Regions from separate parts of the Homo sapiens genome. Here region 1 is linked to region 2. The links come from fine-mapping of genetic effects on gene expression. A gene starts in region 2. The other region holds a variant in brackets. All regions are shown on one strand. Distances are between the middles of the regions. Region 1 overlaps EBF4 (EBF family member 4). Region 2 holds the start of EBF4 (EBF family member 4).

Region 1 (15,074 bases), 50 kb before region 2:
AAAAAACTGGCTCCTTAGGCAAAGAATGGCTACTGTTTTTGCATACACAGAATGCTGGGTTGTATCCACGGACCTCCAAGCCAGGAATGGGGTCTTAGGCAAGTGGAGGTGGGCAGCATCAGCCGGAGAACTCAGCAGCAGGAGCCCCTGCCCTATTCTGGGGAGAAAACTGGGGCTGCCTTCTTCCCCCGCCCTGCACTGAGAGGGGTGTGCAGCTTGGGGATGTGCTAAGGGCAGCTGCTCTCCGCTTCACGCTATGCAAATTGCCTGGGTCGTTAATCATGTAAAAATGTCACAATTAGCATCTTCTTAAGTGGGACTCTAATGAAGCCTCCCTTGGCAGCCAGCACAAGTTGAGAAGGAGCTGCCCCACCCCCAGCAGGCACCAACCAGGCTGGGGAGGCACAGGGCTGGGCAGAGATCTGCCTTGGAGGCCTTTCCCAGGGTGGCAGGGTCACAGCCTTCCCTTCCCCCTCCCCTCCCCTCCATCAGGAAAGGGTGGGGTTGCAAGGGGAAACCCTCTCTCCAGACCCACCTGGAAGCGGCGCATGTCTCTGGGATTCCCCGCATTCTTCAGGCAGTTCTGGTTGCATTTGAGGAAGAACTTGAGGAAGAACCTGAAACAGTGTGGTCGGTGGGCTCAAGGGTCTGGGGGTTCTGGAAACAGATGAAGATCCAACTGCTCCCTGCCATGCCCCCTCCCCACAGGATGAGTCCCCTCTGCCTGCTCCCACTCAGGCACACATCCCATATTCCCATCATGGCCTCCATATACCAGGGTGCCTGATACACACCAGACAGACCCATCACAATGACAACTTCGCTATACAACCATACACACCGTGTGCTGATCACACAGGGCTTATTTATGCCACAAAGTGTATACTTAGCACTCCCACACAGTATATATTCACCATGAAGAGTAAGTCCATTATATACACTACCTATACTTATTACTCATTATACCCAACGCACTGTATACCCATCACACATACAATATATGCTCCGTATGTGGCGTGTACGCACACATACCCCATGTAATGTTATCACACACTGTGTATACGTCACAGTATATGCTCATCACCCATATAGCACATCTGTTATACAACACATCCCTCCCCAGAGTATACCCATCACCCACACCATGTACACTCCTCAGACACAGCACATTCTTTGTAGACACTGTTTATGCCTTGGATACTATTACTCACAAAATACAGCCATCACACACACTCGGGGTATAACCTTCACACAAGCATAAACAACATGTACTCCACATATAGCCTGCACTCATCCCACACATATGGCATACTAAGCAGACACAGAGCCTGTACCCATCATGCACGGTGTATGCCCACCCTACACAGTATATGCACAGAGAAATAGGAAATACACAGAACAAATACATTAATACGCATTTTATGTTGTAAATGATTACCCAAAATATAGTTATTGCAAATACTGTAAAGCCATCCCATATAGCAGATGCCCCCAGCAAATTCACCTCCCACATGGCATATCCTCCTCCCACACATTTTATATCCATTATACACATAGGAAAAGCTTAATCATACAGAGCACATACCCACCATATACACATGGTGTATCTGTCAGACATGTGGTACAGAGACACCGTGAATGTCTTCTTTTTTACATAGAGTTATTGGGAAAAAAACACATATGCGCTGATGAGGTTGCTTTTTAGACAAACACATGAGCACTTTGTCCTCCTCTCCTTCCTGGCAGTTGGCTGGGAGGGTGGGTCCTTGGTCCTGTCACCTACCAGTAAGGTAGCCATGGACAACATTCTGGCTGTTGTACTCTTTTTTTTCCTGTTTTTTTTTTTTTGTTTGTTTTGTTTTTTGTTTTGAGACAGAGTCTTGCTCTGTTGCCCAGGCTCGCCATGTCTCACTGCAACCTCCACCTCCTGGGTTCAAGCAATTGTCCCTGCCTCAGCCCTTGGCTTCCCGAGTTACAGGGGATTACAGGGGGATCACAGGGGCCTGCCACCACGCCTGGCTACTTTTTGTAGTTTTAGTAGAGACGGTGTTTTGCCATGTTGGCCAGGCTGGTCTCGATTCCTGACCTCAGGTGATTCACCCACCTCGGCCTCCCAAAGTGTTGGGATTACAGGCATGAGCCACTGCACCCAGCCCTGTTTAACTCTTGGTAAACTCGGAATATGATCAGTGTCTGCCTTATGCCTTATAGCACTCTGTGAGCATCTGGGAAGATACCCTTTACAAACTGTAGAGTGCAGGGCTAACGTCTGCAGTAGGTCCTGATATGTGGAACAGCCTCCTGGGCCACTGTATGAGTTTCTCCAGTCAGTCAGCTTCCTCATTTTACCTCCACCCAATTGGGAGATATTTTTACCATACTATTTACTAAAGCAAATACAAGAGTCCCAAACCTGGGGTGGAACTTTAACCACGGTATAGTTACTCATGTACTACTTATATACCCCAAATTTGAATGTTCATTTAATTCACCAGAGTTGCCTCCAAAGTCTGCAAACATTAAATTTCTGTTCAGAGGAAAATTTGTTACAGGTCCTGAAAGCCCAGTCCCCAAAAAGGAGGTCACCAAGTGCTGGGAGGAGTAAGCACCAGCCCTGGAACTGAGGTGTCCCCAGCAGGCAGCCCCTCCTTGGGAGCTGGTGGCAGTCACCTTCCTAGAGATACCTCTCCCTGGGGTCCTGCCTCTGTCTACATTCTCAGCACTTGTCATGTTCCCCCACAGTGGGCACCCCCTATATTTCCCAAATGGTGCACCCCTACAGTGTAGACAATCCATTTACCCCTGCAGGATACCCTGCAGTGCAGACAGCTGTTATGCCCCCAAACAGTAGTCACCAATGTGTAGATGCCATATATATCCCTATGGGTCACCCCAAGGTGCAGACACCTTCAGTGCTCCTGAGAGGTACACCTGCACAGTGGGCGCACTCCATTTCTCTCTTATTAGTTACTAATCACTCCCTACACCCCTTATGACACCCCATGGTGTAAACACACTACACCCACATGTGCGACATGTTCCTCATCCATGCCCCACATTCACATGTGACAGAGTATAGACTCCCTACTCACACACACAGGCAGACCAGCTCATTTAAATTAAGTACTCGTGTGCTCGGTCCTTTGGCAGGTGCTAGATGGAGGGAAAAACACCAGGATGGGGCATGGTCTCTGTCCTAAAGGGATTGAAGGCTCACCTTTGGATACCACTGAAGATGCGACAAGCATAGGACTGCACCAAAAGATGACACATGTGCCCACTGCACCCCACTCCACTCAAACCTACAGGATCAAGAGGAAGGGTCCTTGGGAAGGGGCCAAGATAGGGGCTCTGGCCAGGCCTGGACTCTCTGCATGACCCGGGGTAGGTAAATCCTTCCACACCCATGAAGGGAGAGTAGCGATTGACGGCTGCCGTGACACCTTCTAGTCCTGCCTCTGGGACATCCTTTACTTCTGCCCTCCCCAAGGCTGTGGTTTCCTGCTCCCTCACTGGCCCTTCCCCAAGCCTTTGCTCAGCAGGTCTTGCCACTGTCCCTTTACAGTACAGGTTTCATTTGTCCTTTGGGTCCACACCAATTCTCACGCCCTGTACAGCCACCATTTTCTGGCCACTCTAGGTTTCAAGGACCACCCCTTTCTGAGAGCCCTAGGGACCTGCCAGCACCTCTGTCTATGGGGACACCTCAGTGTTTGAGCCTGGCTAGCATTACCTGCAGAGTGTGGGTGAGTAAAAGCAGCTGCACAAGACCATGGCCTGCAGTGGGGGCTGAGGGTCAGTCCCCTTCTCCCTTCCCTTTGGGCCTGTCCTCAGAGCTAGCACATAGTCGAAACCATCCATGGTGTGGCTGAAACCTCACTCCCTTCCAGCTGGTAGTCCACGAGGCTTCTCCCAGTCAGAGAGCCTGCACCACCCCCTAAGACCAGCAGCGTCAGCGTCACCTGAGACCTTGCTACAAGTGTAGAATCTCAGGCCTCCCCTCAGACCTGCTGAGTCAGAATCACATCTCTGCATTCATACGCCCTCCAGGTGATGCTGGTTCACCCTGAAGTTTGAGAACTACCGCACTGGAGCTGCGCTACCCATTACTATAGCCACCAGCCCCACGCGGCATGAACCCTTGCAGTGTGGCTAGTCCGAACTTGAGATGTGCTGTAAGTGTAAAACACACATCAGATTTCCAAGACTTAGAAAAAAAGAATATAAAATAATTCATCAGTAATCTTTTATGTTGATTTCATGTGGGAATGCTCATCTTTTAGATATATTGGGTTAAATAAAATGCATTATGATAATTAGTTGTATCAGTTTCTTGTGGCTACTGGAAAATTTAACATTACATATGTGACTTGAGGCCTTGCTCAGTGGCTCGTGCCTGTAATCCCAGCATTTTGGGAGGCTGAGGTGGGTGGATCGCTTGAGGCCAGGAGTTTGAGACTAGCCTGCCCAATGCTGCGAAACTCCATCTCTATTAAAAATATAGAAATTAGCTGGGTGAGGTGGTGCATGCCTGTAGTCCCAGCTACTCAGGTGGCTGAGGCACGAGAATTGCTTGAACGGGGGAGGTGGAGGTTGCAGTGAGCCAAGGTTGAGCCACTACACTCCAGCCTGGGTGACAGAGTGAGACCCTGTCTCAAAAAAAAAAAAAAAAAGAAAAGAAAAAAAGAAAAAAGAAAAGAAAAAAGCATATTTACATACATATGTGGCTTGCTTGCATTATATTAATATCGGACAATGCTTCACTGGAGTGTATGTCTCTAGGGGAAAGTGACTCGCATTTACTATTGATTGATTGGAGCACAGACTATAAAGTTAAGTGCTAATTTGTAGAAAACTGATAAGATACAAATGATATTTGTCAGTGGGAGCTAAAAATTTTGATGACCTGATATAAAAATTAGCCGGGCGTGGTGGCAGGCGCCTGTAATCCCAGCTACTCGGGAGGCTGAGGCAGGAGAATCACTTGAACCCGGGAGGCGGAGGTTGCAGTGAGCTGAGATCACGCCATTGCACTCCAGCCTGGGGGACAAGAGTGAGACTTCGTCTCAAAAAAAAAAAAATAAAAAAAATAAATAAAAACTTTGATGACCTGGAGGTAGAGCATGGAAAGACAGATAATAAAGACTGGGAAGGGTGAGTTGGGGGGCAGGGAGAAGAGAAGTGGGTTATAGGGTACAAATAGCAAGATAGAAGGAATAAACTTGATGTTTGATAGCAGAGTGGGGTGACTATACTTAGCCAAAATGTATTGTACCTGTGTGATGGACACCCTAAATATCTGGATTGGATCACCACACATTGTATACTTTCACTTGTACCCTGTGAATTTATACTCCCCGCCCCCAAATTCATATGACTTGGAAACAAATGATATTTGTCAGGAGAAGTAAATAATTTCTGTTTGGTGGAGAAATTAGCCCTAAAGATGATAAAATTGTCCTATGGACATTAACTAGCTTTATATCTAATTTGGCCATCTTATTCCAGTATTTTCCACACAATCCCTTGCCTCTCCCTCCCTCCCCTCAACCCCTTTCCATATACGCACGCACTCACACACTCGCACATGTATCACTTTCTCTTCGTCTTCTTTGAATCAGCTTTGTCATCCCATTGGTTCCCTCATCAATAAGTTATAGAAAACTTTGATACATGCTCAGTAGCAATTTGTATGAGAATCACGCTTTTGACATTTTGAAGACTGTGCTTTGGCAAAGGTGACCCGCCCCTAAAGGCTCCTGCCTTCCAAGGCTGGACCTGGAATTAGAGGACTTCCGTTGGGGTCTAGAACCAGGAGCAGTGCCCGGGCTCTCCCCTGGACCTAGAGAGACTGCCGACCCTCCGGGTGCCGCTGCCTGGTCCTCTCCTTGCCCACCAGGGGGAGACAGACACACCGCAGAGGCTGGAAGGGCGAACGTGAGAACAACCCAGGAGAATTCTCCCTTGGCTGACGCCCAGGGGGTGACACTTTATTCCACCTGAGCAGTCAGGGAAGGATGAGAATGGAGTCAGGGAAGAAGAAGGAGGGGCAGCAGGTCCTCCAAGCCATGTCTGCACAGAGGCCAGATGTGGGGGCTGGGGACTGGGGGAGAGTGAGAGACCTGGTGGGCAGGGGAGTTGGAGGGAGACACACACATGGAACACATGTGGACATGGGAACTGCGGGCAGGTGTTCCCCTTGAAAGAAGAGAGCCTGGGAAGGGGCTGGGTAAGTGAGGACAAGGTTCTGGGCCTGGGACACCCTGTAGGGACTTGAGGCAGGAAGGGATGTGCACTTTGTTGAGGGGCTTGAAGCCCTGCTTGTCAGCATGGAACCACCCCCCACCTCTAAAGCTTGGATGAGCCTGGGGGTGTTCTCTGAGCACCCCTCCCCACTCCTGGCCCTATGGGGCTGAAAAGGAGTCTAGGAAAGCCCGTTTTTCCTGACCAGGATGGGGGCAGGGGGCAGGGAGTGGGGAGGAGTAAAGTGAGCCCAAGTCCACAGCCCTCTCTGACCTGAGGATCCCCATGGAGGGTGACCACTGCAGGACCAGTGCCCAGTGCCATCCCACTGTGGCCATGAGGCTCTTGGAGGGCATGGCTTCCTAATCCAGACCCCACAGAAAAGGGAGTAAGGGAAAGGCCAAGTCGCAGAAGCTTCCATTAGGATTACTGGAAGAAAACACCATAAATACAAGCATGACTTACAAATGAAATGCATTAGGGAGGTAACTATGCAAAAACAAAACAAACAAACAAACAACAAAAAAAGAAAAACAGGGAACCAGGTCTAACCCATCAGGCACTCAGCACCTTAGCAACTGCCCAGAACGCTGCTGAGTTTGTCACTTTGGCATTATCTTGCTCAATCCCCCAGGTCGTGTCGGTCTGCAACCATTCCCACTTTACGGATGAGAAAACCAAGGCTAAGCTATTGACTGTGACTTGACAAAGTCACAGTCAATGCTAAAGTAAGGATATGAAAACGGGTCTTTATGAACCACTGATGCCGACAAGAGTCCTAGAAGTCCTTCTAAGTGGGGCTCTCAGAGTCCGACCCAGGCTGGTACTGCAGCGGCAAGCCTGCCTTCAAAAGCAGCTCTGAGAGGCAGGCTGTGTGGGGACCAGGATAGTATGTTGTGGGGATTTCCTCGAGGTTACAAATTCAACAGGGTTGCAGAGGTCAAACTCAGGTCCTCTTGCTCCTAGTTTTGGGCTTTTGGCTGTTGTGACTGCTGCTATCAGTCGAGAAGATCTTCAGTATTAAAAAACAATGGAACCAATAGTTAAAAATTGTTCTAGCTCATTGGGGCTATATGGGCTTCATTATTCCATTCTGCCTGTATTCCACATTCTCAATAAAAACTTTAATGAAAGACCAGAAGAAGAGCTGTGAACAGTGGTCATCCAACTAATGAAGTATCTAAAGGATGGTAGTTATGCATCA[T/C]GACTCTGATGCCTGTGACTTAAAGGAAAGCTCAGAGTAGTTCACCCACACACCCACCTTACCACATCCTGAACTTGGTTTAGCCTTCGTAATCATGTCTATAAACGCTTTTTATTCCTCCCCATAAAAACAGCTCAAGATGAAATGAAAAGAAACGTCTTGTCCATGGAGTATTTCCTACCAAAGAAGCAAACTCTGGGTTGAGTATGGCTAAAGTGCAAACATTTAACTTATACACTACTTCTCAGGGGTGACACCATTGCATTAACTCCCCAAGCACAGTGCTTTACTCAAAAGAGACACTCAGTAGAGAAGGCAAGTGTGAAGGCAATTGATGTGAGTCCACTGTTAAATTCTAGGTTTTCAGGGGGTAGAAGGCAGAGTGGGATGGAGCTGCTTTTTTTTTTCAGTCAGGGTCTCGCTCTGTCACCCAGACTGGAGTGCAGTGGTGTGATCTTGGCTCACTGCAGCCTTGACCTCCCAGGCTTAAGTGATCCTCTCACCTCAGCCTCCTGAGCAGGTGGGACTACAGGTCACACTACCATGCTCAGCTAATTTTGTTTATTTTTTGTAGAGACGGAGGTCTCAGTACGTTGCCCAGGCTGGTCTCAAACTCCTGGGCTCAGGCGATCCTTCTGATTCAGCCTCCCAAAATGCTGAGATTACAGGCATGAGCCACCATGCCTGGCCTGGAGCTTCTTTTGGAAGACAACGTCCAGGAACTTTACAGTGAGTTGATGCCTGCCTGATTCCCTCATGCCCCAGCTGCAGTGTAGACTGTCAAATGGCTCGCAGCTGCCCCAAGGTAATCTGAGAATTACCCTCAGCCAAGAGCATATACTCCCCACCAGTAGCCCACAGCCAATGACAGATTGACATTACAAGGAGGACCAACTCTCTGGCCATTCACACTCCAGACCTCTGCATGGGATAGGCTGACGCTAGACTCCGACCGAGACCACCTCCTTGTTAAACTCCCTCTATACTCATTCCTTTTCTCCTGAGAGCTCTCCTTTGATAAACCTCTTTCACAAGAATCCCCATCTCAGGCTCTGCTTCCAGGAATCCCACCCTAAGAAAACTTAGGTCACAGAGCTAAGGCTTTTCACCAGCTTTTTCTTCCCTGCATCCCCATGAGATACTTAGGGCTGAAATTATGTTCTCACTTCCAAAGAGAAAGCTGTCAGTAACTCAAAGAGCTGGAAGGAGAGCCCGAGTGCATTTTCCACTACAGGTCTGTCAGGGGCAAGGAAGAACGTGTCTAGATTACAGTGCTCCCTAAGGGAACTTTTTCCAGAATGATATGCATTAGCCACGCATGGCTACTAAGCACTGGAAATGTGGCTAGTGCAACTGAGGAACTGAATTTTATTTCATTTTAATTAACATAAATCTATTTTTTTTTTGAAACGGAGTCTCGCTCTGTTGCCCAGGCTGGAGTGCAGTGGCGTGATCTCGGCTCACTGCAACCTCCACCTCCTGGGTTCAAGCGATTCTCCCGCCTCAGCCTCCTGAGTAGCTGGGACTAAAGGCGACTGCCACCATGCCCAGCTAATTTTTGTATTTTTAGTAGAGACAGCGTTTCACCATATTGGTCAGGCTGGTCATGAACTCCTGACCTCTGGTGATCCACCCGCCTTGGCCTCCCAAAGTGCTGGAATTACAGGCGTGGGCCACTGCGCCCAGCCATTTTAATGAACATAAATCTAAATAGTCACATGTGGCTCGAGACTACCATATTGGACAGTGCAGATCTAGAAAGAAGGTATGCAGTGAATGGATATACGAGCTGGGGCAGGATGTTCCAAACAACAGTGTGTCCTGTGAAGGCCTTGGGAAAGACAGCAGGTTAAGAGTGAAGGGTAGATTAAATTGGATATGTGTTTCCAAGCCCAAAGCTGGCACTGCAGCCTGAGATGGGGAAATAAGGGGACAGGGATCTCCGCTAATTTTTATCCTAAAAGATTTGTCTTGGGCTCCCATGAGCCTCCGAAGAAACTGAAGCAGTTTCTGGCTCTCCAGCGTGTTCACTGTCTGCTTCTCTCTACCCTCAGCTCAGGGACAGAGGAGGACACAGAGGGCTGGGCCATTCATCCCCTCATTCATTCCATACACCCACTTAAAAAGATTTATTAAATACCTTCTATGTGTTAGGCACTGCGGCATTGTATAAAATCTTAAGGAAATTACAACCCAACAGGAAAGAGAAACTCAGGAAGACAGAGTGGTGGGCACGGCAGGAGGATGTGCCAAGTGTAATCTGCAGTGGCCACTTATTTTGCCTAGGGGAGGCGGAATGCTTCCTAGAGCTCCAATTTGGTCTTGGGTGATGGGTCTTGGAGGATCTCACCGAGAAGTAGGAGGCAGGGCCCTCCATGCAAAGGGACTAACAGCTCCACCACGGGGCAGACGGCTCACTCGATCAGTGGTGCCTGACAAGACTGAGGAGGGCAGCGTGGCTTGGGGCCTGGGGTTGGGACCAAATCATGCGGGACTTGGATCCTCTGGGTGATGGGAAGGCTACAGGGGATGTCTCCCTTCAGGCAGAAACAGGCACCAAAGGGCCTACGCTAGAGAAGGGAAGGGAAATGAGGAGCTTACTGTAATAGTTCAGGCCCATGTGGGGTTGGCCCAGGCTGCTTCCTGGTCTTAGCCTGCGGTAGAAGCCAAGATAGACTGTCCCCAGGGCCACAGCCACCTGCCAGGCCTGGACCTGGCCTCCCCACCATGATCCCCACCCGGGTAGAGGTGGCTGCAGTGCAGATGGGCTGGAGGACTATAAATAGCCAGGGCGCATACATTAGCATGCCAATGCACCCGCACCCCATCCTCTATGCTAATGGCCCACCATGCGCCTGAACACCTTCTGTTCCCCTGCATGCATTTGCATGCACAATTAGCATAATCTTGTATAATTAATGAACAGCGTCAATTTTAGCTCCTAAGTAATTTGATTAACATGTTGATAGGGCACTTACTAGGCTCTCCAAACCTCAGGGCTGGGCATGGGGCCTGAGGAGAAGGGGAGGGGGTGTGGAGAGACTGCTAAGGGGCCCCCAGCTGCCCACCAAGAGTGGCAGTGGCTCCACTTTCCCCAAACCAGGCCTGAGGGGAGAGGAGGAAGGGTGGAGTGGCCACTAATGGGAGGCCTCTGGGCATGCCACATGCAGCGGCAGGAAGGGGCTGGTGCATGGTCACCATGGTGTGCCTGTGTGGACACAGATGTACACATGCACCCACACAAGTCCTCTCAAGCCTGGGGAGTCTTCTGTCAATGCAGGCTATCAGAGTCCACGAACAGAAGAGAAGGAGAGATAGAGAAAAAGGAGGGAGGAGGGGGGATGGGGCATGGACGGCAGCAGAAGCCACAGAGCTGGAAGGGGTGCTTGCAAGTCAGAAAGAGATTTAAAGGAGAAGGTGGGAGTCTGAAGGAAAGAAGTTGTGGGTTCCTCTGGCCTTGGGCAGAGGTGGTGGTGTAGATGAGACCCAGGCTCTAAGACCAGAGACCTTGGCACCTCTTATCTATGAATCAGGTGAGAGGTGGGTAGCGGGTATTAGCAAGGCCTGGCATCTTCTACAATTCACCAAGCACCCAGGGCAGAGAGAACAGACAGAAGATTAAGTGAGAATGTCCCCCTTCCTATTCAGAGAAAGACCCATCCCCAGCCTGGGATGTCTACCCCTGACTGTGGGCTCTGGTTCTGGAGGCAGGACGTTCCTCCTTGGTTCCCACTGAACTTTTTTTTTTTTTTTTGAAATGGAGTCTCGCTCTGTTGCCCAGGCTGGAGTGCAATGGCGCGATCTCGGCTCACTGCAACCTCTGCCTCCTGGGTTCAAGTGATTCTCCTGCCTCAGCCTCCTGAGTAGCTGGGACTACAGGTGCCATTTTTTTTTTTTTTTTCACATTTTTAGTAGAGACGGGGTTTCACCATGTTGGCCAGGCTGGTCTCAAAGTCCCGACCTTAAGTGATCCGCCCACCTCGGCCTCCCAAAGTGCTGGGATTACAGGTGTGAGCCACTGCGCCCGGCCTGAACTTTCTTGCTGCCGTCCAGGCTCAGCTGCACTTACTCTAAGATGATCGGTAAGGGTGGGGTGGCAGGAGGGTAAGAAATGACTCTGAGGCAGTCACTGTGCTGGGCACTGCATGAATACATCCTACTAACTCCACAGCATCCTCTCCTTCCCAGAATCACAGGAGGCTCATTGGTCAGCTCTATTTTACACATTAGGGAACTGAAGCTCTGGGAGGTGAGAACTTGCTCCCAGTTACATAGCCAGACATCCCAGGTTGGCTTGAGTCCCCAGCCCTCAATAACTCTCCACTTTGTGGAGAAAGCTTATTATTCAAGTTGCAGGCGGTTCACTCACTAGCCGCCTCCACTCCACCTATTATGGTTCCCAGGCTGCCTCATGCCTGCGGTCCCCCTCTTCCCCCAATCTTCTTTTCTTTTCTTTTTTTTTTTTTTTGAGACGGAGTTTCGCTCCTGTTACCCAAGCTGGAGTGCAGTGGCGCGATCTCGGCTCACTGCAAGCTCCGCCTCCCGGGTTCACGCCATTCTCCTGCCTCAGCCTCCCGAGTAGCTGGGACTACAGGCGCCCGCCACCACGCCCGGCTAATTTTTTGGTATTTTTAGTAGAGACGGGGTTTCACCGTGTTAGCCAGGATGGTCTCCATCTCCTGACCTTGTGATCTGCCCACCTTGGCCTCCCAAAGTGCTGGGATTACAAGCGTGAGCCACCGCGCCCGGTCCTCTTCCCCCAATTTTCTATGGAGGCACTGTCCAAATCTCTGCTCCTGTCTCAGCATGGAGGCCAGTCTGGCCCTAAGCTTGGCTTCGGCTGCCCAGAGGTCTCCTCATAAGTCCTTCCTCTTCATTAGGGGTCCTTTGTCCTTATGACTGGCATCTCAGCCTATATGACCTTCGGAGCACATGAGCGAATCTCTCTTGAACCCCCTCTGCTTCTCCCTCTCTCAAATGCTCTCAGCTCTGAAAAGAGTGGTGGGGGTTGGGGGGAATGGGGAAGGAAGTGCAGTGCATTCAGGTGGCAAGAGGGAAACCTTAGTCTCACCTCAGCACTGACCCAGCAGGGAGGTTCTGGAACCTCAAGGGGGATTGCCAGAATGGATCTGGACAGAAGTCTGTGCTTGCAGCATGAGTGTGGGAGATCCTGCTGGAAAGCGTGGAAGGAGATGGATGACATTGGGCTAGTTTTGTGGCTGTAGAGGAAAACAGGGAATGTTGCATTGACCAGTGGATTAGGAAGGGGGCTGATTCTTTTGCAGTTCCCACAGCCCCTTTCATCTAATTGCACTTATAATGTGCCTGATCTAGGGTCTAAATTTGCCCCCAATAGAGTAGACCAGAGCTTACCTTTGCCAGGTGGCTCGGACCTAAACTATTCCAATAGTGTCACTGAACAACACCCACCAGGCAGCAGGCACAATTAAATGCCAGGGAGTATCCATAGCCCCCAGCTTCTATCTATCCCTAGGAGCCAGAGAAGAGCTATGAGCCTCCCATGGGAGGGTATGTTTCCCTACCCCTGCCACAGGGTCATCCTGGCCAATCAAGCAAATATTTAAAGTCTTAGAGCTGTGATGTCAGATACAGTAACCATGTGTTATTTCTTAAATTTGATTTAAATTAAACACAATTAAATATTCAATTCCTCAGTCACGGTAGCTACAGTTCAAGTGCCCAATAAATATGTGTGGCTATTGGCTACCATATTGGTTGGTACAGAATATTTTCATCATTGCAGAAAGTACTATTGGATAGTGTGGTCTTCAAGCCTTACATTGTTTTCTATTTCTTCTTATTATTATGTAATTATAGATAATCTCTACTGACCTTTCTTCAAGTACACGAATTTTTTTCAAAATTATAAATTGTTGTTTACATAATTATATTTGTCTCCTCAACTGCTCTGTAAGCTCTCAGAGGGCAGGGATCATTGTTTAAGCCTCTCTTCTCCCAAGCATCCATCATAGTCCCAGCCCCACAACAGGTGCTGATTGATTCATGATAGAATTCAAGAGTCAAAAATTACTGTGACTGGATGAATGCTGGACTAAAGCCCCCAAGGCACTTTTAACTTGTGCCCAGGTAAGAAATAACAATTACAGGGACAGGACTTTGGGAATTGCTAAGTAAAGACCTCTGAAAATCCATTCTTCCATAAAGAAACAAGAACACTGGCAAACATGGTCAAAATCAACTTTCTCAGAACTCTAAAAATTAACAACATGTGTGCAACAACTCAAGGAACATTGAGGCAAGAAAAATGGCTGAGTTGTAATAAGAACAGAAAGCTTTGTGGTGTTTTAATTTGCCCTATTCCCATCCCCTACTCCCCAGCCCTGTTGAAGACCAGCTACCTTGCAACCACTATTGTAGTTGTGAAAACTAGCAAGCTAGCAACCATAGGAAGGGGTAGAGTGGGTTTGGAGCCTCTCAACAAGCTGTATTCCCAGTCAGTTTTCACTCTTTAACCTTTCTAGCAACTCCCTGACAGCTTTATTTGCAGAACTTGTTATTTGACCCGATTCAGAACTTACTTAGTGGGAAAGACCCTATCTTCAGGGTGTTTGTTGAAAACAGCCAGCGGCAATTGCTTAACATTGCAGCTACATGAGGCAGCAATACAAGTTGGGGGCAAATAAAAGTTTGGCCATAATATTTTAAAGGAAAAAGTGGGGAATAAGATGTTCACAGGGGCTCTGAAAAGCTCTGACATATTCCTGGAGATCTAGAAAGCTATGCATATGTGCAGGGAGAGGCACATGCCCAAAAAAGGCATGGAAAGCCCCTGGTCTCTCACCTCTGGTTTATCCCAAGGCCCTGAGCAAGCAGGAAGTGAAGGTCAAGGCAGAGTTGTAAATCGCTGGAGCACTGAAGGCATGTCTTAACACACATACAGAACCTTTTGGCAATGGGTTGAACACTTATTGGCATTCAAGGCATTTAAAGAAATGCCTGTCCAATCATGGCCTGATAACTAAGCCAAGAGCAGAAACTTCAGTGATTATACATGACAGGAAATATAGACTTTATATAATTAGTCCAAGAAAATCACTAAACAAACAAACAGCAATAGCAATAAGAACAAAATTGGGAGGGAGGATCTGATTGCCAGAGTGCAACATTATATGATTAAAATGTCCAGTTTTCAACAAACAATTATGAGACATGCAAGGTACAGGAAAGTAAGACCCATACATTGTAATAAAGCAGCCAACAGGAACTATCCCTGAGGAAGCCCAGAGGTTAGAATTTTTAGACAAATACTTTATTAATTAATTTATTTTTGGAACAGGGTCTTGCTCTGTTGCCCAGGCTGAAGTGCAGTGGTGTGATCATGGCTCACTGAAGCCTTGACCTCCCAGGTTCAAGTGATCCTCCCACCTTAGTTCCCAAGTAGCTGGGACTACAGGTATGAGCCACCATGCCCAGCTAATTTTTGTAGGTTTTTGTAGAGACAGGGTTTCACCATGTTGCCCAGGCTGGTCTCAAACTCCTAGGCTCAAGCAATCTGCCCTTCTCTGCCTACCAAAATGCTGGGATTATAGGAGTGAGCCACTGCAGCTGGCATAGATAAAGACTTTAAATGAGCAATTATAAATAT
Region 2 (15,074 bases):
GCAGAGGTGTCTGACTGCTATTGCTGGGGCTGCCCAGCAGGTCCCGGGAGATGCTCCTTTGCAAGGCTGAGCAGGACACTCCAGGGCCCTTTTCGCGGCAGCTGCTCTCCCCTGCCACAGCATAACTGTCTGGTACAGACAAAGCCCCCCTCACAGTCTCTGTTCTCTCTTCCCAAGGCCACTCACGGCTCTTCACATCCTTGACTGCATGCTTGTTATAGTAAGCAATTTAACCACAGCCAGCTCAAATCCCACAGAGGACAAGTGACCAAGGCTGGAGCCTCGGCCTCCTCTCAGAGGCACCCCCAGGCGTCTTGCCTTCCCTTCTCCCCACCAAAACCTAACTCCTGGCTGCCTTGATAACTCAAGGTTTTGAGCCGTGCCTTGCCCTGGTCCTAATTTGTCTTTGAGTCTGGGATGCTAGGGCTACGGGGGACAAGCCCTACTTTCATCAGTAATGGGGGGAGGCTCTTTGTTGACACCCATCACCCCAGGAAGTGGAGGGAGCAAAAACTCCTGCATCTCATCCCTTTTCGCAGATTTCCCCAAAGTCTCTCTCTGCTAAGTCCAGCTCTTCTTAGCCCCATCCTGACAGGGCTCCACCAGTCCCTTTCCTCTACATCCCCCCTTCCTCCAAGCATCCCATTGGCCCCTGCTCTCCCCTGCAGGCACCCTCTGGACCCCGGGACTGCTGATGATGATCAAGCTGGGCCTGGCCCTCCTGCCCCAGACAAGATCTATTGGCCTGGCCCTGCCCAGCCCCTGACATGCCAGCCCCTGGCCATGGTGCAGACTGGGGAAGATAAAAGCAGTAGCCCAGTGGGGCACACCCACCTCAACAATGCTTGCACAGGGAGGACCTGGTGGCTGCAGGCAGCTGCCCAGAGCCTGTGTCCAGTTGGTCCTGCTGGAGATGAGGTTTGGGTCTGGGGAGGGTCCCTATCCCCTCTTCCCACTGCCCCCAGCAGCTGCCCTGCTCACCTGCCCCAGGAAATTGGCACAGTGACCAAAGTCCCTGAGGGCAGGGGAAAGGGAGGGGGAAGAATCTCACAGGCCTGCTCTCCCCCTCTTCTTTTGGCCCTCAATTCTACCTAAAGACTCCCCACTCCACTGCTCTCTGCCCACCCTCTCGCCACCCACCCACAGGCCTGCCTGCCAGGTCCCAGGCTGAGAATCGGCTATGAATTATTAAAGCAAACAAAAGCATTTCCTAGCAGGGATGCTAGCCTGCAGCTGCTTACAGGAAAGGCAGCCCCAGCTGGCCTCCCTCTCCGGGGCCCTGCTAGTGTGCAGGGATCAGCTCCAGGGGGAGGTCTGGCCTGGGCCTTCCAGAGGTCTCCCCAGACTGGGAAGCACATCAGAAGGAGAAGAGAGCTACTTCTGTGCTGAGTGTGCCAGCAGGAGGACTTGAGTCTTCAGGGGAGTCAGGGGAAGATGGGCTGGGGCTGGGCAAATGGATCTCAGAGATAACGTCCTGTTGGCTCAGGGCAGGGGCAGGGGGTCCTTGTGCAGACTTCCCTGGTAGGAAGACATTGGTAGGGAGAGGGCAGCCCTCTCCACCAGCGTTCCCATCCCCATTGCCTCCAGTTTAAGGGTATGCAGCCCCTCTGCTCTCCCTACCCCCTTTTTCTTTCTTTCTTTTTTTTTTTGAGACAGAGTCTCGCTCTGTCACCCAGGCTGGAGTGCAGTGGCGCGATCTCGGCTCACTGCAAGCTCCGCCTCCCGGGTTCACGCCATTCTCCTGCCTCAGCCTCCTGAGTAGCTGGGACTACAGGCGCCCGCCACCACGCCCGGCTAATTTTTTGTATTTTTAGTAGAGACGGGGTTTCACCGTGTTAGCCAGGATGGTCTCGATCTCCTGACCTCGTGATCTGCCTGCCTCGGCCTCCCAAAGTGCTGGGATTACAGGCGTGAGCCATCGCACCCGGCCCTCCCTACCCCTCTTTTGCTCAGAACTTTCCTTCCTGTTGGCAGAGCCTCCCTCGCTGATCTTAGCAGGCCTTCTGGGCCTTTTCCTCCCCACCCACCTTCTGTAAAATCTTGGCATTGTTGTAAAAGTCAAGCTGTAGAACTGGGCAGGAGAAGCTGCTCCAGTAGCTGATTCCTGGGTCAGGTAGAACCTGGAGTCTTCCAAAGTCAAGAGGGGAACCAATATAAGGGGACTTGGGAGCCTCTGAGAAACATTACTGCTTCCTCCGGCAGACAGTCATCACCCCCATCCCCCATGGACTGCCTGAGCCTGCCCTGGGTGCTGTGGACACAAGGATGAACGGACCGCTACCCTTGCCTTAGGGGAAGGCCCCAGCTGGCAGGGCAAGGAGGACCGGGACAGGCAGAGGAGAGCAGATGCTGGCCTATGGTAAGCATTCGTAGGCAGCATTAAAGCCACTCCCGTGGGCAGGGTGGGAGGGCACAGAAAGAGCAGTTGCTGGGGTCGGTGGGTGTAAGAGGGAGTCCTGAGGCTGGTGAGACTTAATCCAGGGGATGTGCGGGTGCTGAGGGCAGAGGGATTGTTTCAATAGACCATAGCACTTACTGGAGGCGCAGCTAATTCTCCAAGTATCCACTGCCTGCCAAGCATCATGCAGAGGAGGCTGGGGAGGAAGGCTGGAGTCAGACCATGATAGGCCTTGAATGTTGGAGATATCCATGAGGAAGCAGTGGGGCTTGGGGGTTGGTCACTTTATTTTATTTTATTTTATTTATTTACTTATTTATTTTTGAGGCACAGTTTCACTCTGCCGCCCAGGCTGGAGTACAGTGGTGCGATCTTGGCTCACCGAAGCCTCTGCCTCCCGGGCTCAAGCAATCCTCCCACCTCAGCCTCCCAAGTAGCTGGCACTACAAGCATGCTTCACCACGCCCAGCTAATTTTTGTATTATTAGTAGAGACAGGGTTTCACCATGTTGGCTAGGCTGGTCTCGAACTCCTGGCCTCAAGTGAAACGCCCACCTTGGCCTCCCAAAGTGCTGGAATTACAGGCGTGAGCCACCGCGCCCAGCCTGGTCACTTTATTTGTAATCGGAGAGAGACATGATCTTAAAAAAGTACTTTGGAAATACTGCTTTGGTCCCCAATGCAGGGAAGATGGTTTTAGGGGAGTGGTGAATGGCTGGGGCTAGGCACTGGGCCAGGAGGCTGAGGTGGTAACCAGGGTGCAGTTAACCTTCAAGCCAGGGAGGAAGCGGGTGGAGGGCCAGGGGGTTTCATTGCTAAAAGTGGTGGCTGAGGGCACTGAGATTGGGACTAGGACACGGAAAAGAACATTCCTAAGCCTTGACAATCAGGCAACTGTGGGGTGAGGCTGAGGAAGGTGTCAAAGCCAACTCTCGGATCCCAGGGAGTCTTTTGGGAGAGCACTTCCGTGAAAGTTTCTCAGAGATGAGAGGGAGAGAAACCAGGCCGTGATGAAGGCGGAGGCAGGGCCAGGGGGAGGAATTTTCATTGTTGCTGTTTTGGGATGAGAAGACCCGTGCAGAGGACTGACTGAGGAACCAGATACAACTGTAGTGATGACAGACAACACGGGGAAGAGTGGGGAGGAAGGATGAGGCAGCTCCCTCTGGGACAGGGAGGAAAGTCAGCTGAACAACAAAGCGAGTGGGGGCTCCTAGTCTATGTCCTGAGACAGAGAAGTCTCCACACTTGGGGATTAGCAGACCGAGCCTGAAGAAAGCCCCTGTTCACATTGCGGAAGCCCTCTGCATCCCAGCAATGTGGCCCTCACAATGTGGGGAGTCAGACTGGACACCCCAAGCCCACTCAACCCCACTATGCGCAGACACCACTGCTGTGGCCCATGCTCTGGGGGAAGCCTTATCCCCACACTTCTTGAACCCCACGCAGTCTCCAAGGGCACTGCCTCCTTCACGTCTGCTTCCCCTTCATCAGACCTGCCTCTGGGTAGGCACAGAGGGAAAGGTTGCAGAGAAATGGAACCTTAACTCCCAGAGGCCCCCATCAGCACTCCTCACCCACTCTTACAAAGAGCTCTCGCCACACAGCAGGTGGTGGGGCCAAAGAGGGGGCCATGTTAAGAAACTAACCTTCTCAAGTTGAAAAAAAAAAAAGCCAGAACCAACAGAAGAATAGGCAGGAGGTGGAATTGTAAGCATAGCACAGGAAAACACAAGTTAATGGGAAGAAAAATAGGAAGGAAATACACTAAAATGTTGACAGTAGTTGTATTACAGAGGAGGGACTAAATTTTTTATTTTCCAATTTTTCTAGAATATAGCTATATCCCTTGTAAAAGTTTTGGAAATTAATTCATCCACAAGACCCTTTCTCTTCCGTAAGAGATCAGCTCCAGAGCCCCCCAGCGTTCCCTCCCGACAGCCAGGAAAGGACCGGCGTGCAGAAACGGCTTCAGTTTGCACATGAAGCGCGGTGTGTGTCTGTTACACGGTGAGGTTGAGGCGTCCTGCGGAGTGTGAATGTGGGCTCCTGTGTCAGGCCCGGTCTGCATTAAGCCCCCCATTCAGAATCCCTTCGGGCTGCTGCAACAGCTCAGACTTCTGGGAAGCCAAGTGCCCACCCTGTCCCAGCTGTCAGCAGAGCTGGCACCTCCCTAATCCTAACCACTGTGACTCCCCATAGGATACCTAAATGCCTCCCTCCATGGTCACAGCTGAAGGTGCAAAAAGCCAGGGGGTGCAGGGGCTTTGGGGGCAGGTCAATAAACTTTTAAAGTTCGCTTTCAAATCCTGGAGTCAACCCCCTACTGAGACTCCCAGACCCCTGCAAAGGAGTCAGAGGAGACCGGCGCGGGTGCTGGGTTCCCAGGGACTCTCTGCCTTCCAAAGGACCTACCAGAAAAACACCCGAGGGAAAGGCAGGGGCCCTGCCCAGTTCCCAGGCCAATCAGTCCAGCCAGGCCGACTGCCCACCTCATCTCTTCGCCACCGTCCAGCCCCCAGCCGCTTCTCTGGCTCTGCACACCCCCATCCGCCAACTCTGAGGGGCGTGGGAAAGGAAAAAGGGGGCTGGGTTTCGTGCCTTTCCTGACAGAGAGCTGCGGAATTGGACAAGGAGAGTCACTGGGACTGCCCAGGAAGGAGGGGCTGGACGTTCCTAGACGGCCGGTGGCTGTGGGTCATGGCTGGGAGCTCTGCCTCTTCTCTCAGAGCCATAGACAGCCCGGCTGGGGTGGCGTTCACCGCCGCACCCGCGAGCGGCCGTCAGAAATCTACCGGGGCAGCCCGGAGTGGAGGCAGAAGCCCCGCCCCAGCCCGCCCCACAGCCTCAGGAGGCAGCACAGGCACTCCGGACGGGGTGGGCCGGGGAGCTCGCCGGGACCGTCCAGAGTTAGGGCTCCTTCCGCCCCTGGCTCCAGCAGCTCCAGCAAGCTGAGCTGAGGCGGCGCGCAGCCGTCCAACCCGAGCGCACCGGGTCCGGTCCGAGCGCTTACCTCTGCGCCGCGGTGCTGGCGTCCAGGATGCCCGCGCCCTGCATCCAGGAGCGCACTGAGCCCAGGCCGGCGGGCAGCAGCGGCTCCTCCTTCAGGTTCAGCCCGCTGCGGGGCAGAGCGTCCTGCGCAGGGAACATGAGGGCGCGCGGTGAGTGAGCGCCCCCGCCGCCCCGGATCCGGTCCCGCTGAGGCTGCGGGCGTCTAGCTCAGCCCGACCCGACGGCACCAGGCGCCTCCAGCAGCGCAGCGCCGAGTCCGGGTGGCTCAGTGCGCGCTCGCCTCTTGGGCGCTCCCTCGGAGAAAGCGGGTCCGCGGGCGCCGGCGCTGTCCCCTCCCCTCCTGGGGCGCTGGGCGGGGAGATGGAGGGATTCCCCCGCGGCCTGAGCGCTGGCGGGCGGACTGCGAGCGGGGCGGGGAGGGCGGGGAGCGGAGCCCGCACCCGGTCCGCGCGGAGGCGCCCCAGAGGCGCGCTCTGGCGGCTGCCCGGGGCCGCGGTCGTCGGAGGGGGGGCCCGAGCGCCCCGGGAGCTGCCTCGGGCAAGGCGGGGGCGCGGGGCCGCCCGCCCTTTCCCCCTCGCCGCCCCCACCTCCCGCCCGCCCGCCCGCCCGCGGCGCCAGCGCGGGGCGCTGATTACCATCCGGGAGGCGGAGGCTGCGGGCGCGGAGCTCGGCGGCGGCGGCGACAGTGGCGGCAGCGGCGGCAGGAGCAGCAGCAGCCGCGCGTCCCGGGGAAAGGCTGGGGCCGCGCCGGGCCAGCAGACGCCGCCGCCGCCAGCGCCAGCGCCCCGCGTGCCCCGGCGTCCCGGCCCTGCCGTAGCCCCGGGCGGCAGCACCTGGAGCAGCAGCAGCAGCAGCCCGGCCGACTCCCCCCGGGGCCCGGTTCCCGCGCCGCCCCGCCGCGGCCGCCGCCGCCCGCCGCTCCCCGGGGCCTGGCCTCGGGCCCGGGCCATCCCGCCGCCGCCGCCGCCGCCGCCGCCGCTCCCGGGGGAGCGGTAGCCGAAGGGAGGGAGCGCAGGCGGGAGGAGGGATGTCGGGAGCGGGCGGGCCCAGGGGACGGGGGCCCGGGGGAGGCGGGGGCGGGGCGGCGCGGCCGGCCGAGGGGCGGCCGGGGACGTGACATCATCGGGGGAGGAGCGGCCGGGCCCGGGCCGCGGCGGCGGGGCGGACCCTGGCGAGTCGGTCGCCTGGGCTGGGGGCTGCGGCCTGGTCGAGGCCGCGGGAGGGAACGGAAGAGCCCGGCGGGGGCCACGGAAACCCGCGCAGGGAGGATCCGGGGCCGCGCGGCGAGGGAGCCCGGCCCGAGCGGGAGGTGCGCGCCCCGCTGCGCTCGGGAACCTCCGCGGCCTCCCCGTCGCCGCCGGACGAAGCCCCGGCGTCTTCGCGGCCTCATCTCCCTCCCCCGGCACCCGCCGTACTCTCCGCGCCCGACGCCTTGTGCCTGGACTTGCTGCTCATTTTGACGCCTCCGAGCTTTCGCTCTTGACGTCTTTCTCCCGCGTGACTGTACTCCCGCATTTCCCCGGCGACCCTGACCTCACTTTCACCCCAGCTAAGGACTGAAACGTCCCTGCCGTAGGCTGCGGCCCCAGACAAGCTGGGCGAGGTCCCTGCATCCAACCATCCCGATTCCTGATGCTGGGTTACCTAAGCCTAAAGCATTTTCAGTTTCCATCTGTGCCTTTCAGGAACCTCCTGATTTCTGATTGCGAGTTGGACAGGTAGGCTCAGAGCCCAGCTCACCTCCTGTTTCTCCCCAGCCGCGTCCCGTCTCAGATCCCATTCCTTTTTTTTTATTAGTTCCTGGCACAGAAGTCGTCTGGCCCTTGACCGTGGGGCAGAGACATTTCTGCCCCTCTCCCCACGTTGTCCTGGCCAGGCTTCGAGCAAGCCCAGACTGAGTCCAGCACTTTCCTGCAGAACAGCATGGGGGCCACCTGCCCTGCCTGCCATGTTCACGCTCAGACACCCCTGCAATAACACCTTCCTGCTCCAACTCACTCCCATCCTCTTCTGGGGGGCCTCCAAGTGTGAGTTAGCGTTCTGTCACACATTGGCCCAGATGAGGCGTCCTGGGGGCACTGCTGGTTCTCCTGCCATCACAGAGGCCCTCTCACCTCCTTTCCTGGTCTCTTTACCACCCCTTCTCTCTATGCCTCTCCCCATCACCCACAGGGGGCTGCCATTCCCACCAGGACTCCTTCAGGTCTCAGCTTTTACCCTAGGTGGGATTATCAAACATGGGTTTCTCCTTAAGACAATTCTTAAGCCAGTCTCTTTCTCCATCTCCTGATCTGCCTCTCTAAATCTTGCTTCTCACAGTGTGGTCCCCGGACCAGCAGCATTGACATCACCTGGGAGCTGGTGAGGAATCCAGACTCTTAGGCCCTGCCGGGACCTGCTGAATCGGAACCTGCAATTTACCAAGACCTGTACACACATTACATGTGAGAAGCCCCCCCAGAGCTGTTCCACACTTGCTCCACTCCTCTCCCCAACATTCAGACCCACCTCTGGCTCTCTCATTTCCAGCAGACACCCTTCCTCTTACCCAGTGGAGAGGACTCAGGGAATCTTGGCAGAACCCTGCTGGCACCATCAGCGGCGTATGCTCCTCCTCGTTTCTGTCTTTTCACCCGTTCTCTTCTCTCGGTCTTCCACTGTGGAGATGGATGTGGAACCTTTTTGCTTAGTCCTGTCTTCTGCCTTTCCTGAGATTACCCCACCGATCTCCTGTTTGTGTCTCAATATGTTCTTTTCTCTGCTCAGATCTCCCCATTCTTAAAAGAACTGTCCCCTCCTCCTCGCCTCCTTCTTCAATTTCTGCCCCTCCTGTGTCTGAGACCGTTCACAGGAACGCTCTGCCAAGGATGCCTGACTGGCCCCCAGCAAGCCACTCCTGGGGCCCTTGTGTGCTGGCTCCCTTCCAGCCCTGCCTTCCTGCTTCTGCTCTCAGACTCCGTGGTCTCTCTTGGGCTTCAGGGCCTGGGACCTCCTGGCAGCAGTGGGCTACCCCACCCCCCAACCCCACACACACGGGAAACCACCCTGGTGACCAGATATATATATATATATATATATACACATATATATATGCATGTGTATGTATTTACACACACCTGGGAAATATATATATCTGGTGTATATATATTTACACACACCTGGGAAACTGCCCTGATGACCAGAGCACACTGTCTTTCTCCTCTGCCCTCTGAGCACCTCAAGCTGCTGTGCCTGGCGCTCTTCTTCTGTTCTCCCCTCACAGAATTCACGTTCCTCCACAGTCTCAGAGAACATCTTTGAGGAAATGGTCTCCCCATATGGGACTCTCACTTCTGTCAGTCCTGAACATCAGTGGGTGAGGACAGGGCTGGGCTTGGCCCTCAGAGAGGAGAGGAGCACCTGCCTCCGGGGAGGGTCCCTATCCCAAGAGGCTCTGTCCCTAGGCTGGGATGGGGCTTCTTGGTCTCCACAGGTTCACTCTCCACCAGCCAGCTCTTCTTCCTGACTCCCCTGTGTCTGTGCTGGGCACCTCCTCCTGCTGCCCACCAGGCTTGGAGTTTGGGAATCATCTCCAATACTTTTCTCTCCCTGTCCTGCAGCTACCTGTTTGTTTGGTCTTAACGGGTCCCCCTTCCCTTTCCTCCCTACCCCAGTGCCCACAGAGAATATCTAACAGCAAAACGTACTTTTCCTCCACTGGACTCCACCCTGGCTTGGAGCAGATATGGAATTCCCAGTTCTGCCCACAGCCTCCTCCCTTAGCTCCCGTCCCCAGCTGCTCACCCCCAAACACCCCCATCCTCCTGCCACAGTTTTAAAAAGTGTTGCTTGGATTGGGCCATCGCCTGCTTAGAAACTTAAATGTCTTTTGTGGCTTCTCAAATAAACATTTAGGCCCTTAGTTTGGGAACATTCTAGGCCCTTTGATGCCCTATCCAATTTCTCTTGCCGGCCAGCCTTACCTCCACTCCCTTGCTGTGTGAGTTTCTTGCTTATCCAGCATGGGAGATCACACCGTTTCCCAAACCCAGCTCCCTGTCTCCCAGCTCCAGCCTTCATGCTGGCTGGCCCTTCCTGCCGGAATGCCCTCACTTTGCAGCATTCCTTTTTGTGATGGTTGAAGTGATTTGGTTGGAGTGCTTTTCATTCTGGAAGGTTGTCCCCAAGATAGATTGGGGGATAGATGCTCAGAATTAACCTGCGCAGAAGGTGGAATCAGTCAGCCCAGGAAAGTGGCACTGAGTTAAGGCTCAGTCATAGCTGGGGCAGACTCCCAACTTGCGTGGGTTTCTGTTCTATCCTAACCACATGGAACAGAAAACCAGCCAGGATGGTGTTTGAGGCTTCCCAGAGCCTGCAGCCCCAGAGAAGGGCTCCTGGGTTAGAGCTGCTGAACCAAGGGGTGATGAAGGGAGGAAGGTCAATGAGCAGTTCTGGGGCAGCACTTGGGGGTCAGAGGTGAGTGTCTCTGCTTTAGATCCAGGTGAAAGTCTGTTGTTTCTTGGAACCCTCTGTGCGCTTTTATTTTGCATTAGTTATCTTATTTTTTAACCTTTTATTTATTTATTTTTTTAGAGTCAGGGTCTCACCCTGTCACCCAGGCTGGAGTGCAGTCGCGCGATAATAGCTCACTGCATCCTCAAACTCCTGGGCTCAAGTCCTCCCTCCTTAGCCTCTCAAGTAGCTGGGATTGCAGGTGTGCACCACCATGCCTGGCTAATATATATTTTTTTTTTTTGAGACAGAGGTCTTGCTATGTTGCCCAGGCTGGTCTCGAACTCTTGGCCTCAAGTGATCCTCATGCCTTGGCCTCCCAAAGTGCTGGGATTATAGGTGTGAGCCACTGTGCCGGCCATGCATTATTTATCTTAGTTCCTTTGTATATTGTCCCGTTCCAACTGCTGCATCTTCTCCATGAGAAAGGAATTTGGTGGGTGGGGTGGGGCGAAGTGCTCCAACTGTGGCCACAGAGAGCTACAGGGGTGGTGATGACAGAGGAAGCGTGGTGCACGCCTGCAGAGAATGCCACTCTTTTCTGGCAGGGGCTCACCACAAACCCTTAGGCCAGAGCCTTGGGTCTCATTCTACCCTTTCATTGTGCTCATGTCCACGAGAAGGGCTTTTTTGTGAGTGGCCAGTGCTAGAGAGTGAGCAGATAATGAAACCCAGGTGGCGCCCTTATGAGCTCACAGTCAGGTGGCAGGAGACTCATGAATGCTCAATGTCACTCTGGAGTGACCTGGGCTGTTACAGAAGCGGAGCAAGTCCTGGGACAAGCACAGAAAAAGGGCCTGAGCCTGAAGGTGAGGAGGGGCCCGGGAGCAGCTTGTGTAAGGACTAGCAGAGCGGAATGAATGGGTTTGCTGCACTTCCTTCAAGGTGGAGGTTTTAGCACCCAGCACCGGGAGGGTCATGCTGGTGCCTAACATGCCATGCTAAGGAGTTTGGACATTTTTTCTGTAGGTCTAGTCATAAAACAATGTTTTTTTTTTTTACATCAGCAGAACTCCCCCACGCCTCCGCCGCCTTAAGCGGGTGCAAACCGTATAAAACAGATAGGAAGTGGTGAGTTAGGCTGAGGCGCGCTTGGCCACGCTGTGTGTTGGGCCATAGCGCCCCCCGGAGGCCCCAGAGTGTGATGCCGGCACTTGGATCCACTTCCTGTCAGATCCCCGATGGTAATTAAAATGAAAGGAGGAATACAAAAACTAAAGCGCGCATTAATTATGGCAATTCTCATAGTTCCATGAAGAAATCCAGAATGACAAGGGCCATCCAAGAAGGTGGTCTGGTAGGTATGCGCCAGCTCTGGGCCTTCCTCGCTGTTGATTCCTGAGGCCTCTTCAATTGCTTCAAGAAAACCCCACACCACAAGTATTAGTCTTGCCTTAGGATCCATTCCATCCCACATCTAGGCCCAGTTATTCAATCTTGAATAATAAAACAATAGGAGCTATCGTGGTGGACCCTTTGGCAGGAGAGTCGAGCTCCTATCCCCAGGCTCTGGGATCATTGGTCCTGGTTGTTCACACACCTGCCAATCACAAACCACTTCAAAGACACCCGGTCTCAATGCCCATTGAGGAAGAGGAAGGGGACCGTTTTCCCAGTGCAGCAAGCTATGCCCACTCCCTGCTATTTTGCAGAGCACGGCTGTTCCCTGCAGTCTCAAACCTAAAACTGCAGCAGCACCCAACACTATCCCTGACGGCTGCCCCTTAGCTACTCATAGGCAATGGCAACAATTTTGAAATATTATATACACACACACACACACACATATATATATATATTTACCGGTGGGGCAAGATCAAATTCATTTTCAAATTGTTGGGGAGGGCCAGGCGCGGTGGCTCACGCCTGTAATCCCAGCACTTTGGGAGGCCAAGGAGGGTGGATCATTTGAGGCCAGGAGATCGAGACCAGCCCAGCCAACATGGCAAAAACCCGCTTCTACTGAAAAAAACAAACAAAATGAAACAAAAACAATACAAAGAAAACAAAAATTATCCGGGTGCAGTGGCATGTGCCTCTAGTCCCAGCAACACAGGAGGCAGGGGCTCAGAACTACTATAGAGTACTTGAAATAAATAAGTAAAAGCTCAGCGCAGTTAAATTCCAAGTACATGGGGAGCAAACCTGAGTTCAAGTTACTTGGTTTAAATCAATGTCTCGCCACTGGCGTAAATTGAACTTCAGTACTATGGCTACATTGTCTTCATTCTCACTTGACCCAACATCCGGTTGGCAGTAGGTGCGTTTATTCTAGATCACGTTTGAGTCTCTTTTTTTTTTTTTTTTTTGAGATGGAGTCTCGCTCCCGTCGCGCAGGCTGGAGTGCAGTGGCACGAGCTAGGGTCACTGCAACCTCCACCTCCCGGGTTCAAGTGATTCTCCTTCCTCAGCCTCCCGAGTAGCTGGGATTATAGGAGTGGGCCACCACGCCTGGCTAATTTTTGTATTTTTAGTAGAGACGGGGTTTCGCCATGTTGGCCAGGCTGGTCCCCACCTTCTGACCTCAGGCGATCCACCCACCCTGGCCTCCCAAAGTGCTGGGATTACAGGCATGAGCCACCGCGCCTGCCTTGAGTTTCCTAAAATGCTGAACTTAAGTCAGAATCCCATCTCTGCCACTCACTGGATTTGTAAACTTATACTGAGCCTCAGTTTCCCATCAAATGAGAATGATAGCACACAGTTGTGAAGGTGAAATAAAATTAAACACGAGGAAAACAATTTTACAAACTTTTGAACACTATACCTGTGTAAGGTTGCTATTCTGGGCGTTCAGCACCTTGGGTTTTCCTGTGGAAGTGGGAAAGATATATAACTGTCTTTGTTGGAGACATTAAGCAGCTTATTTCATTTTCCAAATAGATACTAGGGACAAATATTTATACTTAAACTATTACATTAAAAGCAAAAAAGCAAGAGCATAATATTTAAAAAAAAAAAAAGCATGAGAAGTGCTTGAACCCAGGAGGAAGAGGCTGTTACAGTGAGCCAATCGTGCCACTGCACTCCAGCCTGCGCAACAGAATGAGACTGTCTCAAAAAACAAAAACAAAAACCCAAATTGCTGGGGAGGTAGGAGGAGGGTGGGGGAGTGGGGGTCTAGAAGAAAGGAAACTATTATCCTTGAGGTAGAGCAGGGTGCGGTAGGGGTAGGGGGTGAGGGGAATATAGGGTAGGCAGGAGGGAGCTATTTTTCCCCTTGTCCCGGGTGAAGTGGGGAGAGGACTTGGCAGAGGCTGATTCTCCATGAGGCTTAATCTTCAGGCTTTCATCTACACCGGCCCCTTCCAAGGACCCTCGAATATTCCTCGTGACAGGTTCACATGGTTACATATAATTGTGTATTCATAATTTTGTATTCTTCTTAAGGAGTTACTCCTCCAATTGTATAAGCTTCAGGTCTCCCAAAATCTAGATCTTCTGGTGGGACCTGGAGTTGGGTAGGAACAGTTCAGGTAAGAGATAATGAAGACCTAAACTAAAACAAGTTCAGTGGGGAGGGATGCGTTTCTTAATAGAAAAGTGCTATCATTTACTGGCCTGTAGCTCTTACAGATGAAGATGTTTGATTCTTTTCTTCTTTTCTGTATCCATAGTGCTGTGAATAGTCCTTGAAGGATAAATATTTGTGGATGAATACTTGTCTGGGAGGTAGAGGTCAGAAACTCATGATGGATTGCCTATGTGGGGTCCCACAGGGTGCCCCAAAGAGATGAGCTCCCAGCCGGGCGCGGTAGCTCATGCCTGTAATCCCACCACTTTGAGAGGCCAAGGCAGGTGGATCACCTGAGGTCAGCCTGGCCAACATGGTGAAACCCTGTTTCTACTAAAAATACAAAAAATTAGCTGGGTGTGGTGGCACGCACCTGTAGTTCCAGCTACTCAGGAGGCTGAGGCAGGAGAATTGCTTGAACCTGGGAAGTGAAAGTTGCAGTGAGCCCATATTGCGCCACTGCACTATAGCCTGGGTGACAGAGCGAGACTCTGTCTTAAAAAATAAAAATAAAAAGAGCCCCCCACACCTATCCCTTGTCACCTATCCCTACTCTGCTGTGTCACCCAGGCCTATTCCTGGTGTTGGGGAGAGAGGTCTTAAGCTCTCTCTTTCCTTAACCTTCAATGGCTGCTTGGCCTGGGGGAGCGAGGTCCTTGGAATGTGCCATGTGGTGGAAAGAACACCGGACTTGGGGTCTGGAGACCTGAACTCAGTAGGCAAGTTACTGACTTATTCTCAGCTGTAGTTACTTCATGGATAAGCCTGAGGTGCTGGTGGCCAAGTGATGCAACCGTAAGTGGTTAACAGCTTCCTCTTTTTTTTTTTTTTATTATACTTTAAGTTCTAGGGTACATGTGCACAACGTGCAGGTTTGTTACATATGTATACATGTGCCATGTTGGTGTGCTGCACCCATGAACTTGTCATTTACATTAGGTATATCTCCTAATGCTATCCCTCCCCCCACCCCACAACAGGCCCCGGGGTGTGATGTTCCCCTTCCTGTGTCCATGTGTTCTCATTGTTCAATTTCCACCTATGAGTGAGAACATGTGGTGTTTGGTTTTTTGTCCTTGCGATAGTTTGCTGAGAATGATGGTTTCCAGCTTCATCCATGTCCCTACAAAGGACATGAACTCATCATTTTTTTATGGCTGCATAGTATTCCATAGTGTATATATGCCACATTTTCTTAATCCAGTCTGTCATTGTTGGACATTTGGGTTGGTTCCAAGTCTTTGCTGTTGTGAATAGTGCCGCAATAAACATACCCATGCATATGTCTTTATAGCAGCATGATTTATATTCCTTTGGGTATATACCCAGTAATAGAATTGCTGGGTCAAATGGTATTTCTAGTTCTAGATCCCTGAGGAATTGCCACACTGACTTCCACAATGGTCGAACTAGTTGACAGTCCCACCAACAGTGTAAAAGTGTTCCTATTTCTCCACATCCTCTCCAGCATCTGTTGTTTCCTGACTTTTTAATGATTGCCATTCTAACTGGTGTGAGATAGTATCTCATTGTGGTTTTGATTTGCATTTCTCTAATGACCAGTGATGATGGGCATTTTTTCATGTGTCTGTTGGCTGCATAAATGTCTTCTTTTGAGAAGTGTCTGTTCATATCCTTTGCCCACTTTTTGATGGG

What was found.
Region 1: its variant is fine-mapped to the expression of EBF4 in whole blood (TOPMed, PIP above 0.99).

The regions. Positions count from the first base shown.
Region 1 is chr20:2,734,092-2,749,165 of GRCh38, reverse strand. It overlaps EBF4 (EBF family member 4), which reads right to left. Exons shown (of 17, transcript NM_001395167.1): 7 at 536-617. Among named protein-coding and RNA genes, the nearest start is that of EBF4, 49 kb to the right of the region's middle. RefSeq lists a silencer at 5,821-5,870 and an enhancer at 10,023-10,604. The variant T/C (reference allele first, on the strand shown) is at 7,448.
Region 2 is chr20:2,684,120-2,699,193 of GRCh38, reverse strand. It overlaps EBF4 (EBF family member 4), which reads right to left and starts at 6,414. Exons shown (of 17, transcript NM_001395167.1): 1 at 5,412-6,414. The coding sequence starts at 5,548. LOC105372507 (a long non-coding RNA gene) reads left to right here and starts at 6,574. Exons shown (of 3, transcript XR_937210.3): 1 at 6,574-7,128; 2 at 7,730-7,854. RefSeq lists enhancers at 1,242-1,785, 4,259-5,243.